Linked DNA regions of Homo sapiens: all the other regions are linked to region 1. Evidence: fine-mapped expression QTL. A gene starts in region 1. Each other region holds a variant in brackets. All regions are shown on one strand. Distances are from middle to middle.

Region 1 (5,150 bases):
CGGAATCCCTAGGGGGCTCAGCATCCTTTCTGTCTCTTCAATTCAGATAACAGTAATAAGATTTTCCAGCAGGGTTATAATCACACCACCACCACCACCATCTCCAAAAAGCCATAAAACAATAAATTCATTACTGAAGCATCTCAGTGAATGGAGATGAAAACTGTGCAACAGCCCAGCACGGGATAGCTCTCCCAATCTCTGTTAGACAAGCACTGGCTAAAATATAAGAACTGGATCAATCTCCTCACATAAAATCAACTGTCTTACAAACCCAAGGGGGAAAAAAATCACACTTGTTAGGCATCATTAAGAAAAGATTATCAGATTATATACATCAGTAATAAAATTCCGAGCCACAGGGCGAACAGGGACCTGCAGGCTGGGGACAGAGCAGCCAAAATCCAGCCTCCCTGTGATTCCCGACCTCTTCTCCAACTCTGTGCAAAGCCCGAGGAGGTGAGACTCTCTTCGCTAAGGCGAGCTTCGGCTATGTCCTAGTGATGGACAGTTCCTCTCTGCCAGGCCCCTGCAGCCTTGAGACCACATTCCCCAGAGATCCGGCAACGTTTCCCCATCCCAGGCAGCTGGGCATTCTCCTCTCCCGGAAGGAAGACGGAATCCCACCCCGATCATGCGTGAGCTGCGGCGAAGAGAAGCCGCTGGTCCCGAGGCGAGGGGCCTCGAGTCCGCAGATTCCCCTCAACATTTCTGGGAGTAAAGTTGGGCTTAGCTGGGCTCCTGGCAAATAAAGAGGAGCCTGGAAAGACAGCCATGCTCAGGCCCCCGTGAGGCCACTTCGGACCCCTCCACGCTGTGCTGGGCTGCATCTGCCTTAATTCCCCGTCTGTTGCTTCTCCAGGCTCTGAGCCCCCTCCACAAAAGGGGGATGCGAAACTCAAAGGAGTTAGGATGTCAACCCTGCAAACCGCAGAAACTAAACCGACACCAACCTGCCCAAGAAGGCAGCGAAGGTGGTTGAGGACGACACCCCACCCCCCACCCCCCACCAGGCAGGGGTCGCGGGAGATGGCGGGCGCCTTTCTGGTGGCTCCACGTCCTCCTTACTCCCGAAGTCCCGGCGGCCCCGAGTCTGCCCCAACTCCAGCATCCGTTCTCCCCGAGCTGCGGCGGGGAAAACAAGGTAGGGGGCAGGGGCAGGCCCAGAGGGGTCTCGCCCCCGCCCTTGGGCCGGCCGAGGGGCTCCCTGGAGTCAGAGGAGGAACAATAGCGGACCCCGCGTCCTGGGAGCCACCCGGAGTCTCCCGCTCGCACCTCCCTCCCCACCTCCTCCAAGTTCAGCCGGGAGGCGGATTGGGCTCAGCAGCACCGACGCGGGGGCAGCGAGGCGCCGCGCGGGGCGAAACAGGTGGGACCCGGCGCAGACTCCAGGGTGCATCTCCGGGTCTGCTCATTCATTCCCACCCGCGCTCCCTCCGCCGCGGCCCCTGCCCCGCGCCCCGCCCCAGCCGGCCTGCGAGTCGCGGAGGACCCGGGAAGAACCCTTCTCCTAACTTGGCCGGGTCTTCCCGCTCTACCCTCATCTCCACCTTCCTCTCCTTCCTCTTGTCCCCAGATCTGCTCTCCGCAGACAGTGGGCTGCCGGCGGTGGACCAGGGAGAGGTGGCGGGACCCCGGCTGCAGCCCGCTCAGCCGCTCCGCCCGGGCGCCGTCCCCAGCGCCTCCCGCGCCCGAGCTCCAGACACAAAGGCGGGGACACGAGCCCGGGACCCCGCGCCGGGAGCCTCCCAACTCCGTGCCGCGCACTCACCCCATCGAGGCGGCGGCGGCGCTCCCCGGACCCAGCTGGCTGCTCCACCCCGCCCGCCGCTTCCCCAGGAAAACGCGGCCGCCGGGCTCGCTTCCTGCTCGGCTTCCTGCGCCGCAGTCCCTCCTCCTCCCCCGCTGCGGGGGTCAGTGGGCGCCGAGCTCCCGGGCTAGGCCGGCGGGGCGGGGGCAGCGGCAGCACCACCACGTGGCCGCCGGGCGCCGGCCCCCGCCGACCTGGATCCAGTGGGAGCGGGAAGGGAGGCGCTAACCATTCCCCTCCCATTCCACCCCTCGCGGCCCCAAATTCCGCGAGTCAGGTGACCCGGCCCCGGGCTCTGGCCGGGACCTGCGGGGGGTGCTCTCCGCCCTCCAGCCCCCGGCGCATCTCCCCGGCCCGCGCGTCCCGGCTGTTCGTGGCTTGCTTTTAGTCTCCAGGGATCGTGGGACCCTTCTCCGCGGATCTGTTTCATCCTCTTAACCTGAAGTTAGTGGAAGCCCCCCACGCTCTGACCCCTGGGTTTAGGACGGATGAGATCCCAGATACTGTTTATTTCTGATTAACTTCCAAAGTCGTTTGTGGTAGTGGCGAGTGTTTCAAAGTCACGGATCCAAGCCCCTTCTGACCAGAATCTAAAAGGTTGTTTTCCAAAATCATTGAACAGAAAGTAAAGTAGAATGTGCTCACGTTCTCCGGACTGAACCAATTGGTTGAAGTGACTGTTTTCTAGCACTCATTGGGTGGCAAGGCAAGACTACCACCGTTCAGTGTTGTTCTGCTCAGGAGTTAGAAAGGAGAAACCTACAGCCTGAACTGACAGGCGAGATTGCGCATGGGAACGCCTTCAAAATAGTGTGTGAGAAGCCACGGGGTACAGGCTCACTGCCCCAGGTCCCCGACAGCTTCTCTCCCTATCCCAGCCCACTAAGGCCCGACCTTTCAATTACGATGGACTCCACCATTAATTCCAAGGATTTCAAAGCTCTCTATCTACCCACTCATCTAATTTGGGCTGGCTTTTCCATGCATTCTAGTCATGCTAACCAGCTGTGACTTCAGTTCTGTTCACCTAAGCTCCTCCCTTCTCCTCGTTAGCTCTGCCTCCTTTGCTCAGGGAAGAAAGCTTTCTAGAATAAATAACGTATTGAGTTCTTTCTGGGATCTACTGTAAGTCAATTGAACTTAAGAGGGAAAAAAGGTCGATTCCAACAAAATTGAAATTCACCCTAACAGCTCAGTTTATAACGTGTCAGCTACATACTAATATTTATATGGCAGATATTACCTGTTCCCTCCCCCCGCCCCATCCCCCTTTCCTTCCTCCCTCTCCCTACTAGGGAAGAGCCTATCTCCCCTTTAACAGTTGAACTTGACAAACAAGCATCAAAAGCCTTGTAACTAGGTGCAGGGTCTTCACTTCCTACAGCAAAAGTTCCTTAGCCAAGTGAGGAACAGCTAAAGCAAGATGTACACTCCTCTTCCTGTCCTTTATCCCTCTCAAACAAAGTCACACTGTAAAAGAAACATGAACTGACCAACATTCTTTTGGTTTAATGCTGGCAATTTCTACAATAGTGTTTCATCGTGATTCTTGTTAATGACATATTGTAGGGTATTTAAGGGGAACATTACTGCCTGTGAGTTTTCTGCTCTATTTTTGCAGGTCAGTCTGGTTCAAGTAGGGGCAGCTGGGAGGATGGGATTTGGAGCATGGTACAGGTAGATGATGCTGTCTTGGAAATTTGACATGTGTGTATTCTGTAGGAACAGTTGACATTTTGAAGGAGTTAAAATATTAGACAACATTAAACAATGATTGTCTAAGGCAGGCACATCTGACTTTGATTCACAGAGGTCCTGTCCCTCTTCTTTTTTCTCTGTCCCAGCCACCTCCAAAGAGCCTACCAGCCTATCACCTCTTAGATTCCCATAGGTGGTTTGTATATGATTCTCCTTAGTTTACACTCCCACCCTCTAAAGTCAGCAAGTCTAACTCTGGATGAGGGATCGTTGTGAAAGTATTCTTATTTTTTTGGGCTGTGCCAAGATCCTTTTCCAGATCCCCACTTTTGAAACTCAAAGCAACTTTGTAGTCTGTAGACTGAGCATGGCAGCTAAGTTCTGCCAACTGCAGGGGGATTAGTGGGGAAGTAAGAGGTTCAATAGCATCTTCTTATTGGTTGTGTTGCCCAGGCGTTTTAGAAATGCTAATTGGGTTCATTGGATACATTGAATACCACCCTTTGATGAGAACTAGGCCCAGGTGAAAGGGGTTGAGTTAAAGAAGCAAAAATAAAATGACCAGCTAACCTGTGTAAAGTAGTAAAACCTTTTGGGAGGAGCAGTATGTTGCATTCCTTTATCCAAATATCAAGGTAACAGCAGTGTAATATGTAGTGCCATGAGCACCAAGAGCAAGGAGACTGGGTTTCCTGACCCATTTCTTTTGCTTACTTGCCATTTGACCTTCACCAAGGGTTTTAACTTCCCCTGTTCCCCCTTTCCTCATTAGTAGAAGGGAACATCAAAGTACATGACCTCCAAGATCTTTCTTTTCTTTTGTTTTCTTTTTTCTCTCTTTCCTTCTTTTCCTTTTTTTCCTTCCTTCCTTCCTTCCTTCCTTTCTCTCTCTCTCTCTGTCTTCTTTCTATCTTTGTCTCACTTTGGTGCCCAGGCAGGAGTGCAGTGGCACAATCATGGCTCACTGCAGCCTCAACCTCCAAGCTGAAGCTTTCCTCCCACCTCAGCCCCCAGGTCCCACCTCACTAGCTGGGACTACAGGTGTGGGCCACCACACCCGGTAATTTTTTTTTTTTTTTTTTTTTTGTACTTTTGGTAGAGACAGGGTTACGCCATGTTGCCCAGACTGGTCTCGAACTCCTGGGCTCAAGCGATCTGCCTGCCTCGGCCTCCCAAAGTGCTGGGATTACAGGCATGTGCCACCATACCCGATCTTTTTCAGTTCTGACATCCTAAACCTATTCTCTTAGTTTGTAGACCCTTCATAAGCAAAACTGCCCTGTCATTTCATGACGAAACATTGTTTTCTGATCACACTAGCAGGTCAGTCTTGTCAAAGCAATACAATTGTAAACTCCAAAGAGTGTTGCCATCCAGGACATCACAAATGAAATTCATTGATTGAGTGGGCTCAATTTTTATTCTTGAGATTAAATGATATCATCCCTTTTTCCTTGCTCATCCTTCATCAATACTGGTTCTTCTTAGATTATGAGTATCTTGATTGCCCAAGTCTGAGGAACCAAAGCTAAGACTTGTTGGGATAACAAGAAACTGCCCCTGCAGGAGGAAGGAGAGATAGATATCACACCACAGCCAAAAAGTCATTCTCCACTTTATTTGGTGTTTGGTCAGGAGCTGA
Region 2 (5,150 bases), 120 kb after region 1:
GAGGAATTTAGTTTATAGTTTAACTTTGAAACAAAGATAACAGCCTGCCCCAAAACAAAACCCTTCCTTGCCTGGGGACAAGACCTCCTTTGTGAAACTAACAAATTATCCACAAGATTAGAAATTATGGTTCAGGAGTCAAGCAGCCAGATGCCACAAGATCAGTAACCTCCTAAGTTGTTCCTATAGACAACATTACTATTGTCAAACCTAAGATTGGTGTTTGAGGTATTTTTCCCAGTCTGGTAAACAGGCTCATTTGGTCTTGTGGCCCCCCACCCAGAAACTCACTCAATGCCAGAGGACAGCTTCAACTCCCTATGATTTTATCCCAGACCCAACCAATCAGCTGTCTCCCTTCCCTTGCCCCCTGCCCACCAAACTATCTTTAAAAACCTCTGGCCTCTGGGGAGGCTGATTTGAGTAATAATAAAACCTGTCACCTGTTTAGCCAGCTCTTCCTCTATTGCAACCCCCCGTGTCTTGATAAATTGGCTTTACCTGGGCAGCAGGCAAGAAGAACCCATGGGGTGGTTACACAACTGGGAGACTCATGAGTTACAAGGTGGATGCCTCATCTTAACATAAGTGAGGCAGGCGAATGGCTCTTTGTCTCCTAGCTCCATGGGAAGATTGGCCATTAATTTGGAGAATTGTTCTTTCTCTTAACTCTCCCATTTAAGCAACCTGGAATATCTCACATATATTCTTTCTGCTGGGAAGGAGGGTCTTTGTGGTATGCCTGTATGTGTAGTGTTAGGTTTGTCCCCCAGTGAAAACACCAATCTATAGTTTACGCATCATGGAGTCTTGTACATCTGTGGTACCAAATCGTCCACCCGGTGTCCCTGCCCAAGGGCTGCCCCATTTTGAGACCACGAGGGCTGTCTGTGAATGCAGTGGTGATTCTCTTTCCCCCTTACCTCCTAGGATCCTGTGTCTACAGCATTAGCACCACCACCCTGCTAAGAGTTTCTCTTACCTCATTCTTCTTTTCATTTTGGAAAAAAGAAATGAATTTTGCTGCATCATGGTCATCACTAATGCTTATTAAGCACTTAACTCTGCACCAGACATTGTTTCATGTGTTTTACATATACAGTATTAACCTGCTTAATTTTCCTAATAACCTTTTGGGGGAGGTACTGCCATCACCCTCACTTACCCAGGAGGAAACAGCACAGAGAGGTTAAGTAACGGGCTTAAATGGAGAAGTGGCAAAGTGGGCCTGACCCAGAAAGCCTGTGGTATTACCACCACCATATACACCGGGTACATGTTAGAAGTTCTTTTGGAAAGCAGTTATTTGAATTGCATACCTTTTTCTAGCCATTGAAGCAACCCCTATTAACCCTTTCAACACGCTAGAAAGAGAGCCTAACGACTTTTATAAAGCAATGAAATAGTCCATAAGTAGTAATCTAGAACAGAACTAATATATATCCCACTGGTTCTTTGAGGAGTGGGAGTGGAGGAGGGAAATAAATATATTTTGAGTTAAAATTCAGCACGCCAGTGACATTGTTTTCTGTTCTTGCAACGTAGGGGTAAATTCTGTTCCTGCAATGTGGTGTTAAATGTGACCTCCTCTGGTCCCTCCTGCTCTTGTGGGGAAAGAATTTCCCTGGTTTCTGTTCCATGCATGGCAGTGGGGGCAGGTCCAGAAACAAAAGGTGTCATTTGAGAAGTGGGTGGTCGGGCAGGGAGTTGGCAGTGGACAGGGGCAGCAATTGCTCCAAGGTGAAAAAAGTGCTTGTTCCTACTTTGGGGTCTGCATACGTTTATTTTCTGTTTTTACGTTGCAACTTCTATAAGCAATCAAGTTATAGCATATAAAAGCTTTTCCTTTTCTTTCTCTCTCTCTCTCTTTTTTTTTTTTTTTTTTTTTAGTTAACAGAAGAAAATTTTGTTTAGCTTCATATAAACAGAATTAATCTGTGTTATGGAACACTTTAGAAGGTATAGATCATGCCATCCTCCTTTCTGTCCCTTTGGTCTCTGCCACAGTTCACTGCATTAACTTTATAACCCATTTTTTCCACTCCCTCTCCAGATCATCCTCTATGCTGTTTGTTGTTGTGTTGTATTATTGGTCTAAAA[AT/T]ATGAGGAGTCTGAGTGTTTCCCTCATACACAAACCCCTGCATTATTGTATTAGTCCATTCTCACGTTGCTGATAAAGACATATCCAAGAATGGGTAATTTATAAACAAAAAGAGGTTTAGTGAACTCACAGTTCCATATGGCTGGAGACGCCTCACAATCATGATGGAAGGCGAAAGTTACGTCTTACACAGGGCAGGCAAGAGCAAATGAGAGCCAAGCAAAAGGGGAAACCTCTTATAAAACCATCAGATCTTGTGAGACTTATTCACTACCATGAAAACACTATGTGGGAAACTGCCTCCATGATTCAGTCATATCCCACTGGGTCCCCCCCACAACACATGGGAATTATGGGAGCTACATTTCAAGATGAGATTGGGCAGGGACGCAGCCAAACCATATCAATTATCTTCTCCTTGTCTGGCAAACAAACTGGAAACCCAGTCCATCTTTGCAGCTGTAAAGGTCTCATCCTGCATCCTTAGGTCTTTTCCTCACTTCCCTGCCCCTCAAAATCCTTCTCTTTCTTTCAAGACTTCTCTCATACGTTACCACTACAATAAAGCCTCAGCCACTGCCCACAAATGTAATTAACTTCCTCCTCCTAGCTCCTTCCATCTGGTCAAAGCAGCATCCTACATGTCTCCAGGATGTTTTAGAGACCTTGTTGAATTCTTCCAGTTACAATTTCAAGTTCATTCTGTGTATAGTTTTTGAGCACCTGGACCCAGGTATATGATGAAAAGAAAATAATCTCCTTCCTTATTACTTTCCTCCTGGTGCTTACTCAGCACTTCCTTCCTATCCTTTACGGATGCCATTTCAAAAATGTCAAACTGCTGCCCAGCCACATTCTAGTATGTGTAGCTGGACATGTCACAATATGATTAGATGTTTTCTGATGATTTTAAGTTCTTCTGAGGCATTTAATTATGACCCCATGGATACAGGTTCAAATTGAGGGTAGGCTGACTTTTTTTCCCTGGAACTGAGAACAAAAATCTAGTGGGTTTTTTGGGTCTGCTTTTGTTTTAGAAAACAATCTCAAAAATGTTACAAATTTGTAAAAAAACAAAAAACCAAACACAAACAAAAAATCTCAAACAAACAAAAAACCAAAGCAAAACACTGCAATTACCAAAACCCATTCTCTTTTCCTTGAAGCCAAGACACATAGATGTAATTGAAGAGTGTATTTTGTTTTGCTGGGTCTAGTTGACCAGCAGCATCCCTAGGGTTCATCAAAATTTGCTAGGTAATTCCCACATCACCCCCCCAAAAATTTCCTTGTTTTTTAAAATAGCTATACTTCACATTGCTTTCTTGTAATACTAGCTTTGTGTAATTGCTTTCTTAGGAGGAATGAGGGTGAAAGCTAGTATATATTGTTCATAAGAAACGATGGAAGGAAGCAAAATGACTGGTCCAGAAGGTTTCTGATTATGTCATCAGGATAAAAATTAAATGGTATCATTTGAGTGTTTTTACATGAGTCATTTATATTAAAAATTTTTAAAAATATTTTCACTGTAGAAAAAATAAAAAGAAAACCAGTTCTTACCCTTCCAAAACAAAACCAATATAGAGATAAATAGAAGCTGTAGGAGTGAAAAAACACTGTTACTGTCCTCTTACCAATGGAAGGAGCAGCAGGTCTCCCAGTCTTCATTCTGACATTGATAGAGGCAGACAAATGCCTAGGCAGATAGGGGTGGGCCCATGGCAAAACCCCACCTTCAAGCCGAAGACAGTTTAAAGCCTGAAAGCCAAGCTGCAAGTTAAATCCTCTGACCAGATTGGGAACTTGTCTTCCCATTTGGCATGTTTTCCTCTGATTGGTCCCCACCCTTCACCTATTTTACATATACCTACTCTTTCCTAACTGGTTTTTGTACACTTTCTTGCTCACCTTTAAGTGGTGTCTTTGCTTTAAACTTTTTTGCATACTCACAGACCAATCAGCATGCACTCCCCATTCTGAGTCCATAAAAGGCTCCAGACCCAGCCACATGGGGGAGCCATCACCCTGTCCCCTCTCCACTGAAAGCTGTTTTCATCACTCAATAAAATTATTCTCCACCCTCCTCACCCTCCAATGTCCTGTGCATCCTCATTCTTCTTGGGCACAGTACAAGAGCTCGGGAACAGCAGAACGCAGGTATAAGCTATAACACAGGTGTGCTGGGGTATGTCAGGATGGCTGAGTGAGGCCCCAGTGGGGCGTTGTCAGTCAGGGGTCCCTGGCTTGCAAAGTGACATTGCAGGGACCCCTGGCTGGCAATGCCCCACTGGGGCAAGAATGAAAAAAATGGTGTTCATTTAGTCAGCCTATTTTAGGTGGCATCCTTAAACATCAGCCATCTAAAATAGGCTGACTTTATCTGGATCAATCTATAACTGATTACTTCTTTAGTAGCTGTTATTTAGCTCAACAAGAATAGAACAGGCTCAATGAGATGTCTTCAGGCTAATTTATAAGCCCTGCTGCCGTTAAATAAAAACCTTGTAGTAAAAAACATACCTTACTAAATGTACCATCTTAACTATTTTTAAGTGTACAATTAATTTGTTATGTATTCACACTGTTGTGCAAAAGATCTCTAGGATTTTTTTCATCTTGCAATACTGAAACTCTGTGCCCACTAAAAAACACGAATTTCCCCTTTCTCCTTTCCCCAGCTCTTGGTAACCACTTTTCTATATGATTTAGATTAAATTCGATACTTCATATATGTGGAATCGTACAGTATTTGTCCTTCTGTGACCGGCTTATTTTGCTTAGCATAATATCCTCTAGGTTGCAGCATGTGACAAAATTTCCCTTTATTTAAAAGCTGTGTAATATTCCATCATATGTACACACCACATTTTCTTTATCCATTTATCTGTTGATGGACATTCAGGTTTCTCTTGCCTCTTGGCTGTTATGAGTGCATTGAACATGGGTGTGCAAATATTTCTTTAAGATTCAGTTTTCAATTCTTTTGGACATATACTCAGAAATGGAATTGCTGGATCATATAATAATTTTATTTTTAATTTTTGAG
Region 3 (5,150 bases), 84 kb after region 1:
CTTTTTTCTTTTTTTTTTTTCTTTTTTTTGAGACAGAGTGTTGCTCTGTTGCCCAGGCTTCAGTGCAGTGGCGCGATCTCACTGCAACTTCCACCTCCTGAGTTTAAGCAATTCTCCTGCCTCAGCCTCCTGAGTAGCTGGGATTACAGACACACGCCACCATGCCCAGCTAATTTTTGAATTTTTAGTAGAGACGGGGTTTCACCATGTTGGCCAGGCTGGTCTTGAACTCCTGACCTCAGGTGATCCGCCCACCTTGGCCTCCCAAAGTTCTGGGATTACAGGCGTGAGCCACCACACCTGGCCTCAAACCACTTTTAAAATCCCAAAGCAGACACAAACTGAGGCACAACATCATCCTCGAAGTTGTCGTTGTCATCATCAGGAGATGCAGCCTTCCTGGGGCCCCATGACATATCCTTCTTTAGTGCAGTTGTTTAGTTAATTGACCCCCAAGTGTGCCCATCTAAGTAGTCAGTTAGTTGCATCAGGCAAAGAGTGCTGGATTTGAGACCTGGATCTGCTAGGTGACCTTGGAGAAATCAGTTAGTAACCTCTCTGAATCTCATTTTTCTCTAGTTTCAAAATAGACCTAGCACCACCTGTATCATGAAGTCATTGTGAGGACTGCCTGAGATGATCTGTAGGCAGGCATATTTTTGTTCTTTTGTATTGCTATAACAGAATACTGCAGACTGGATAATTTATAATACACAGAAATGTATTAGGCTCATGGTTCTGGAGTCTGGGAAGTCCAGGATCAAGGGGCTGCATTTGATGAGGCCCTTCTTGCTGTCATGCCACAGCCGAAGGGCAAAGAGAAGGCGAGAGGGAGCAAGAAGGGAAGGGGGCCAAGAGCATCCTTTTATCAGGAGCCCGCTTCTGCCCTAGTTAACCCACTCCCACAATAATGACCCCAATCCATTCAGGAGAGCGGAGCCCTCAGGACCTAATTACCTCTTGAAGGTCTCACCTCTCAACACCATTGCATTGGGGATTAAGTTTCCACACATGAACTTTGGGGGAACACATTCAAACCACAGCAAAGCACTTGCTAAGTTGTGTACAAATGTTATATGTTGTTTGTCCCAGTCAAGACCTAAAGAGCATTGCTCCTTGTAGAAAGAGGTTCAATGAATTATGCTCCAAGAAGTGGGGATGCCACAGGCTGCCAATATACAGGCTGTCTTTCTTCCCAATTTACCGGCACACAATAACCAGAAGAGCCACCTGTCACTTAGTATTTGCATGTACACATTTATATTGCCACTTACCTTGTTAAAGTCTGCACTATTCAACCTTTGGGGCAAAAGTTTTGGTTAATTGTTTCATATCCCTAGTACCTCCAATGGCTCCTGCAAAAAAAGGTACTCAGAAAATATAGGCAGCTGGTAACATTTATTGAGCACAAATTATGTGCCGGGAACTGTTCCAAGCACTCCACACTGATTAATATACATAATATTCACAACAAGACTTTGAAGTTGGGACTCTCTTTATCCCTATTTTGTAGATGGGGAGATAGAAGCAAAAGAGGAGTAAAACCTCACATAGGTGAGAGGCAGGGCTGAGTTGTGCACACAGATGCCGTGACTGAGAGCCCAGAGTCTAAACCAGTCTGCTCTATTGCATTTTCTTTTTTCTTTCTTTCTTTCGTTCTTTTTTTTTTTTTTTTTTTGAGGCAGAGTCTTGCTCTGTTGCCCAGGCTGGAGTGCAGTGGCATGATCTTGGCTTTCTGCAACCTCCACCTCCCAAATTCCAGCAATTCTCCTGCCCCAGCCTCCTGAGTAGCTGGGATTACAGGCACATGCCACCACGCCCAGCTAATTTTTGTATTTGAAGTAGAGACGGGGTTTCACCATGTTGGCCAGGCTGGTCTCAAACTCCTGACCTCAAGTGATTGGCCTGCCTCAGCCTCCTTCAGAGTGCTAGGATTACAGGCCTCAGCCACACTGCACCCAGCCTGCTCTATTGCTTTTTAAATGCATGTTTAGGATGAGCACTGGCAGGTAAGAAAGAAGAGAAGACTTCTGCAGCCGCCCAATTGTGCAGACACACCATTTCTTGTCTGTGGCGGGTTGAATAGTATACCTGAAAATTTACGTCTACCCAGAACCTCAGAATGGAAACAGACTCTATTTGGAAATAGGGTCTTTGACAATGTAATTGGTTAAGATGAGGTCACACTTGACCAATCTCGCATGTGTCCTTATAAGAAGGAAATTTGAACGTAGACACACAGGGGAGAAGGGCATGTGAAGACAAGGGCAGAGATTGGAATGAGGGATCTACAAGCCCAGGAATGCCATGGACAGCCAGCAAACCACCAGGCAGTGGAGAAAGGCATGCAGCAGATTCTCCTTCAGAGCCCCCAGAAGGAATCAACCTTGCTGACATCTTGGTTTGGGTCTCTGGCCTCTGGATCTGTAAGAAAATAAATTTCTGTTGTTTTGAGCCACCCAGTCTGCAATAGTTTGTAACGGCAGCCCTGGGAAATCAATACACCTTCTTTCTCTCTGTTCTCTGCTTTCCAGTGAAGTGAAGGGAAGTATTGCACAGATGACTCAAAAACATAAGAATCTGAGGCTTTAGGGGGGTTTAGCTTTGCATGAGCTCATTTCCTTTTTCTCTGATTAAACCTCATGGAAAACCAGCCCACTCAGATTAAGAAAGAGTGAGAGGGTCCCATGGGCCATTATCTCTTGGTAAAGTGAAATCAATCCCAGAAGGCAGACTGCTTGAAAAGCCCATCTTCATTAATCAACCAATAAGTCTGTGAAGTGGAAATGTGCACTTCCTTTTGCCTCTTTTTTGTGTGGAGAAGAAGGGAGAGCTAGAGAGGTCATCCCAGCCTAGGAATTCGAACTGGTCTATGAAAAAGA[G/A]AGAACTATAATTTCAAACGTCTGCTGTGATGCTTTGGGGTGGAGTCCTGGATCAAATGGCCTGGTCAGCAAAGTATTTCACTGACAGCACAGTTATGTGCTGAAGTTTAGGTTTAGGAAGAGGCTGGAGGTTGCTGAATTTTTTGGCATGACTGAGAATAAGAAATTCTGCTTAGATGTTGCCAAGGGGCAGGGAAGAAGGAGCACAGTGTGATGAGAGAGGCCCAGATGCTATTCAGAGAGGCTACCCTGAGATGTCCCTGGTTGGTGGGCTTGGCCATGGGTCTTTTAAGAAGAGGCACGGCTGATATTCCATTTAAAGTTGGCTATGTGAGACTATGATGTAACTCCCCACCCTGGTTGCATTAAACCTTCAGAAAAAGTTTTCTGAATATACACCCTTGTATTAATCATCCCATGGGGAAAAGAAGTGTCCTCAGAGACACACTGGGAGGAACCAGCAACTGTTAGCCTTTTTTACCATCTACCGCCCTTCCTCTCTTCCCACTGTTTGTGGGCTTGGAATTTAACTCTACTTTGAATAAATCCTAAAGGGTGCTGAAATCATCAAGCTATGGGATTTGAAACACCACTACCAGGCTGCTCAGACCTACGTCTTCCTTGTTCTGAGGGCCAACTACAGGAAAGGCATCCTGCTAGGTGCGGTAGCTCATGCCTGTAATTCTAGCACTTTGGGAGGCTGAGGTGGGAGAATCGCTTGAGCTCAGGAGTTTGAGGCCAGCCTGGGTAACACAGTGAAACACTGTCTCTACTAAAAATCAAAACATGAACTGAGGATGGTGTCACTTACTCGTGGTTCCAGCTACTCTGGATGCTGAGGTGAGAGGATCACTTGAGCCAGGGAGGTTGAGCCTGCAGGGAGCCATGATTGTGCCACTGCACTCCAGCCTGGGCGACGGAGCCAGACCCCATTTCAAAAAAAGGTAAAATAAAATAAAAAAGGAAAGGCATCCTATGAGGTGTACCAGGGACACAAAAGCTTGTAGGATCTAACCCCGTTGCTGTGGACTGAATGCTTATGTTCCACCAAAACTCATATCCTGAAGCCTCACGCACAATGTGATAGTAGTTGAAGTTGGGGCTTTCGTGGGGAGGTCAGTAGGTCATGACAGTGGAACCCTCATTAATGGGATTTCTGTCCTTATAAAAAGAGGCAGAAACATGGGATTTTCCTCTTTGCTCTCTGCCCTGTGAGGATACAACATGAAGACAGGTTTCTGCAAACTAAGAAGCGGGCTTTTACCTACGGTGACTCTGATGGTGCCTTGATCTTGGACTCTCCAGCTTCCAGAACTGTGAGAGATAAATATTTGTTGTTTAAGCCACCCAGACTTAAACAACAGATAGTCATTTGTTATGGCAACCTGACCTGACTAAGATACCTGGCCTCAAAGAGGTTCCAATACTGAAAGACAAAGGCAAGAGTGACTACAATTAGGACTGCCTTAACTGAAGAACAAACAGCAGTTTCACAGCTTCAGAGGAAGAAAAAGAGCACTTCTGGCCAGAGTGATCAAGGACCTGATGTGAGATATTTAAGGTCATCTTCCAACAGACAGAGTAGAGGTATACGGCATGTCTCTCTCTTGAGTACACCCACACTCCCTTTTATTGAGTGTGTACTTTTCCCTTTTCAATAAATCTCCATAACAAAAAGAATGGAAGTGTAAGGGTGTGTGTGTGTGTGGGCATGTGTGTGCACATGTGCATGCACGCACACACACACATACATCCCATCTTCCAGGCAGACCACAAAGGGCACTATTTACACAGGCTATAATGTGAACGGTGCTATCTGGAATTGCACTGTAGGTGGTTCTGCTTCCAGGCCTAGTTAATGGTTACTACCCAACAGGTGAGGATAAAGCTACCTATGGGTACCCATGCCTGACAGTTCTACTCCTCTCAGTAAGGCAGAAGGAGGAGGCAGCAGATCTTTTTGTTAGCAATGGGTCAAATGCAAGAAGATGAAATGTTGTAGGCATAAATTAAATGTCCCATACTTGGCCCAAAGAGCCAACTGAATAAACTCTACAAGAAGTAGGAGACTCAGTTAAGTAGCAGCACACATCAAAACTTGTCCGTGATAAGCTCAAACTGAATCAAGTGAAGTGACGGGGGGAGGTGGAGCAGGAGATTAAAAAATGTGGTGCCTTAAAAGCCAGTGTGGGCCAGGTGTGGTGGCTTATGCCTCTAACCCCAGCACTTTGGGAGGCTGAGGCGGGTGGGTCACTTGAGGCCAGGAGT
Region 4 (5,150 bases), 32 kb after region 1:
TACATGTAGACTTGTGCATATATACTCATCTTTTGTGAGCTTACACGAGCTGGCTCTAGCACACCACTGCCTTAGGTTTAAGTTAAAGTGGGTGGGTTTCTGTCCCTTGATCCAAATGTCCCACTATATATCAAATTAAGGTACCATTGATTGGCTGGTTTATTTATCACCAAAAAAGAAAAACACCACTCTGCCCATTAAACTGTGATATAATGCTTTAAGAACAGTCCTGCTCGTGCATGAAATTAGTGCCACCAGCCTTTGCTCATTTGATACTTCCCTGTGTATATTCCTCTGGGTTTGGCAACTTTCCTGCCTTTAGCTGTGTTGCTTAGTGTGTGATAGACAATTCTTTTTTTTGGTATCTTAGTAACAAAATATAACACAGCTTCACATACTTGTGGGTATCTTCTCTTCTTGATTCTATTAAAATACTTGTGACAAATACACAACTCTGGTCATTCCTCCATAAATATCTGCTTTGTTAATATCCAATGTAAGCTCCTTTATTCCTATACTTTTCTGTGTAGACTTTTTTTTTTTGCTGTAACACCAAACTATATCTAATGTTTTTGAAGATATTTTAAATGGCGATTAAACTCCACTTGCGTAGTACTAATGTTGCAAATAACTCAAATGAATTGATGACAAAATGACCGAATTTACCTGTGTGCAGGTAATGACAATCAGAGCTATGGCAAGTCTCCATCAATTATGGGATGAATCCCAGTTTTAGAGATGTTACAATGTGGAAAAGAAAGTGCATCTCATAATCGGTGAAATATGGTAATCTCTGCTATGGAAAATACCTTGGCTCAGCTATCACCTCCTCCAGGGAGCCTGTCCTAACAATCTTCCAGCACTCCCTCTGAGTTGGGCTCAGTCCCACACCTTGTGTTCCTGTAGCTTCCTGTGTATATCTGTATCTTCCCACTTAGCATGTGGTGGCCTAATTACCTGTTTACCTGAGGAATGTATCTTGGAGAACTCTTTGGGTTCACGGTGCCTGGAACTGTGCCTGGCACATCATATCGGTCCTCAGTAAATGCTTGCTTAATGATTGACTTGTGAATCCTATGAGAGATGGATGATCTTTCGCTTTCAGACCAGCAGTGTGCACACTTCTGAGCAGGACAACCCCTGTCTGTCCAGGGCCTCTTCTGCAGCCAGCCACTCTCAGACCATGCCTACCAATGATATTAAAACACAGCAGTCCACTGTTCCTCTTATTTATACTCTCCCCCATAATCTTCACCTTAGTTCAGGCTGCTATAACAAAAATACCATAGAACCAGTGGCTTAAACAACAACAAAAAAATATTTTTCACAGTTTTGGAGGCTAGAAAGTCCAACATCAAGGTACTGGCCAATTTGGATCCTGGTGAGGGCTCTCTTCCTGGTTTGCAGAGGGCTGCCTTCTTGCTGTTTCCTCATGTGGCAGAGAAACAGGTGATTTCTTTCATATCTCTTATTTAAAAAAAAATTGGCCAGCACGGTGGCTCACGCTTGCAATCCCAGCACTTTGGGAGGCTGAGGTGGGCGGATCATGAGGTCAAGAGATCAAGACCATCCTGGCCAACATGGTGAAGCCCCGTCTCTACTAAAAATACAAAAATTAGCTGGGCATGGTGGCAGGCTCCTGTAATCCCAGCTACTCAGGAGGCTGAGTCAGTAGAATCGCTTGAACCCAGGAGGCGGAGGTTGCAGTGAGCCGAGGTTGTGCCACTGCACTCCAGCCTGGCGATAGAGCAAGACTCCATCTCAAAAAAAATAACAAATAAATAAAATAAAAATAAATAAATAAATAATTAAAAAATTGATTATATATTAGTTGTACGTATTCATATCTCCTCTTTTTGAGACAGGGTCTCACTCTGTCACCCAGCTGGAGTGCAGTGGTGTGATCAGGGCTCACTGCAGCCTCAACCTCCCAGGCTCAAGTGATCCTCCCACCTTAGCTTCCCAAGTAGCTGGGACCACAGGCACATGCTACCACACTCAGCTAACTTAAAAATTTTTTTTTTTTTTTTTTGAGACAGAGTCTTGCTCTGCTGCCAGG[C/A]TGGAGTGCAGTGGCGCTATCTTGGCTCACTGCAACCTCTGACACCCTGGTTCAAGCAATTCTCCTGCCTCAGCCTCCTGAGTAGCTGGGATTACAAGCATGTACCACCACACCCAGCTAATTTTTGTATTTTTAGTAGAGATGGGGTTTCACCATGTTGGCCAGGATGGTCTCGATCTCCTGACCTTGTGATCCACGCACCTCAGCCTCCCGAAGTGCTGGGATTACAGGTATGAGCCACCACACCTGGCCAAAAAAATTTTTTTATGGAGAGGAGGGTCTCACTATATTTGCTCAGGCTGGTCTTCAAATCCTGGGCTTAAGTGATCCTCCCACCTCAGCCTCCCGAAGTGCTGGGATTCCAGGTATGAGTCACTGCAGCCGGCCTCATGTCTCTTCTTATAAGGGAACTAATCCCATCATGAGGGCTCATCCTTCACAACCTAATTACCTCCCAAAGGCCCCACCTCTTAATAGTATCACACTGGGAAATAAAGCTTCAATTTATCGACTTTGTGGAGATACAAACATTCAGTCCACAGCACCCATGATGTGAGAAATCAAGTCAAATTAAAATTATAATGGGTAATAATGGCATTGCGATGTACTCCTCCCAGATAGCTCATGACATTTTAGGAGGAAGTTCGAATGAGCTAACTCACAGAAAAGAGCCTTGGGAAGAACTGCAGGCTGCTGTGAGAAAATCTGGAGCCAGCATGCTCTTTTCAAGGTCTACCACTTAAATGGTTGTCTGGGTTCACTTTATGCTCTCATTTGGGGCCACGATGTACCAAGTTAAGTTGTGAGAAAAGCCTGGATCATTTTGGGGCTTCCAATCTTCCCCTTTGGGCTCATTTCTTCCATTTTACATGCTTGGGTTGGGCATGGGACCAGCATCCTGAAAATGCAGGTGGGCTTCCCCAACTTGTGGGGGAGGCCCGAGAGGAAAGCAAGTTTCTCATTCTCAAAACCCAACTCAAGTCACCATGATACCTTTCATGTTTATGGTTTCCTTACATGAGGAAACTACTCAATCTCTTCCAGATCTTAAGTCTTACTTTCCTTCATGAGGTTATCTCATTTCCCTCTATTTATTTTCAAAATCTCCAAAAATAAAAGTTACTTCTAATATTCTCTTTTCTCACAACACTCTTCCTCCACACATTGCTTTAACTTCCATGGTCTAACCTAAAATAGAAAAGTTAAAGAAGGAAATACTAGTTGTCGGTATCAATTAAACAAACAGCAATTTAAAAAATTACAATAAAGATTTTCTGGTTTTGGTGACTTGCACCCTAAAATATTGGAAGGAATATCAAAGGATTGGAAAGTGGGGCTCAGTCCAACTGCTGGTGTCTGGGATTTAATGCTCAGACAGAGGTGGGTGGGGGAACCTCTTCCCTGCTTTGCAAAGGCAGAAATAATTCTCTGGTAACTCTTCTACAGGGAAGCTCTGTGGATAAGAAACCTCAAGAATGAAACACTTAATTATAACCAAACATGGAGCAAACAAAGAAACAAGAACTGAGTTGGGCTGTTTTATATGAATCCTGCCTACGAAAGGAGATTGCTCCTTCCAAGTTTTGTAAGAGATCAGTGACAAGCTGGAATTTTTCATTTCTGGGCTCAGTGAGAAGTTACATTTACAGAACCAACTTCATTTATGTTTTAAAAGCAAATAAGTTTAGGCTTACCACCCTGGTGAGCTCTGAGGCTGTTGAATATTCTGGGAACTTTCATATTGATAGAATATCATGACTGGGGGAAAATATTACAGTCATTTTCCTAACTCTAATAGTTTCCATCCCTAACCTCAAAAAGGAAGGTGAAAAATGATGAATGGGTGTGATGAGGATGTTGTTCCTGAGCCTTTGTTAGCAGTGCTGTGAGTTGTGCCAACGGCAGGGACCCAGGGAAGGGTTGGTGCTCAGTCTCCTCATTCTTTAACCTTGAACTCCTTTGTGTGACCACTTGTGTATATCAGGACTTGATACAACCTGCAGATGTGGAAAAGGGCATTCTTTTATTTTGTATAAGTCCCCTAGTTCATATGAGAAAGTAATGTTTCCTTGGCACTATGATTATAATTCTGATATTTATCAGGTGTCTAGTAGGAGCCAGGCACTTTACAACTATTATTTATAATCCTTATGACTCCCATTACACAGATGTGGAAACTGAGGCTGAAAGAATTCGAATGACTTGACCAAAACAATAGAGCTAGAATACGGCTGAGCCAGACTTTGGGCAAATTCCTCTCTGACTCCAAAACTTACATTCTTTTCTCATGCTATGTTGTCCAGGAAACTTGCCAGCCTACAGTGAAATAAGCTTTAGGTAAAGTATATTGAAAATACAGAAATGAGGCTGGGTGCAGTGGCTTATGCCTGTAATCCCAGCACTTTGGAAGGCCGAGGTGGGCGGATCACTTCAGGTCAGAAGTTTGAGACCAGCCTGGCCAACATGGTGAAACCTTGTCTCTACTAAAATTACAAAAATCAGCCGGGCATGGTGACAGGTGCCTGTAATTTCAGCTACTCTGGAGGCTGAGGCAGGAGAATCACTTGAACCTAGAAGGCAGACATTGCAGCGAACTGAGATGGTGCCACTGCACTCCAGCCTGAGCGACAGAGTAAGACTCTGTCTCAAAAAAACAAAACAAAACAAAACAAAACAAAAAAAACAGAAATGAGGCCAGGTGCAGTGGCTTATGCCTGTAATCCCAGTACTTTAGGAGGCAGAGGCAGGAAGATCACTTGAGGCCAGGAGTTCAAGACCTGCTTGGGCAACAAAGCAAACCCTTGTCTCTACAAAATAAAAAATAAAAAGAAATGAATGAGAATTTTAGAATTCTATCTGACAAATCTTCCCACAGTGTCTCTGGGTAGTCTACAAACCAGTAAAAATAAATTAAAGTTAATTACAAAGGAAAAATGAAGGTAATGTTAGAGACGCAGTCACTTCCGGGTGGATTCAAATTATCTGCATTTCTAGATCCTGCCATTGTTCACCCCCACTCACGCCCTCCACCCCAAGACACTGTGCAGAGGCCCCTCATGTTGGTTCTGATCTACACGTTGACCTCAGAACC

Direction of the effects. Alleles are on the strand shown, and positions count from the first base shown. SD is a standard deviation of normalised expression in the study named.
In carriers of allele T in region 2, the expression in fibroblasts of the gene that starts at base 1,919 in region 1 tends to be higher than with AT alone (small effect, 0.31 SD a copy in GTEx).
For the expression in macrophages of the gene that starts at base 1,919 in region 1, G is the high allele of the variant in region 3 and A is the other (moderate effect, 0.51 SD a copy in Nedelec 2016).
For the expression in esophagus mucosa of the gene that starts at base 1,919 in region 1, C is the high allele of the variant in region 4 and A is the other (small effect, 0.34 SD a copy in GTEx).

What was found. PIP is the estimated chance that this variant, and not a neighbour inherited with it, causes the effect.
Region 2: its variant is the best candidate, but not a certain one, in a credible set for the expression of RAI14 in fibroblasts (GTEx, PIP 0.51).
Region 3: its variant is the best candidate, but not a certain one, in a credible set for the expression of RAI14 in macrophages (Nedelec 2016, PIP 0.53).
Region 4: its variant is the best candidate, but not a certain one, in a credible set for the expression of RAI14 in esophagus mucosa (GTEx, PIP 0.81).

The regions. Positions count from the first base shown.
Region 1 is chr5:34,653,097-34,658,246 of GRCh38, reverse strand. RAI14 (retinoic acid induced 14) reads right to left here and starts at 1,919. Exons shown (of 18, transcript NM_015577.3): 1 at 1,772-1,919. RAI14-DT (RAI14 divergent transcript) reads left to right here and starts at 2,074. Exons shown (of 3, transcript NR_183264.1): 1 at 2,074-2,254. RefSeq lists a silencer at 1,912-1,961.
Region 2 is chr5:34,537,140-34,542,289 of GRCh38, reverse strand. No RefSeq gene overlaps it. Among named protein-coding and RNA genes, the nearest start is that of RAI14-DT, 120 kb to the left of the region's middle. The variant AT/T (reference allele first, on the strand shown) is at 2,101.
Region 3 is chr5:34,568,969-34,574,118 of GRCh38, reverse strand. No RefSeq gene overlaps it. Among named protein-coding and RNA genes, the nearest start is that of RAI14-DT, 85 kb to the left of the region's middle. The variant G/A (reference allele first, on the strand shown) is at 2,883.
Region 4 is chr5:34,620,632-34,625,781 of GRCh38, reverse strand. No RefSeq gene overlaps it. Among named protein-coding and RNA genes, the nearest start is that of RAI14-DT, 33 kb to the left of the region's middle. RefSeq lists a silencer at 4,477-4,837. The variant C/A (reference allele first, on the strand shown) is at 2,060.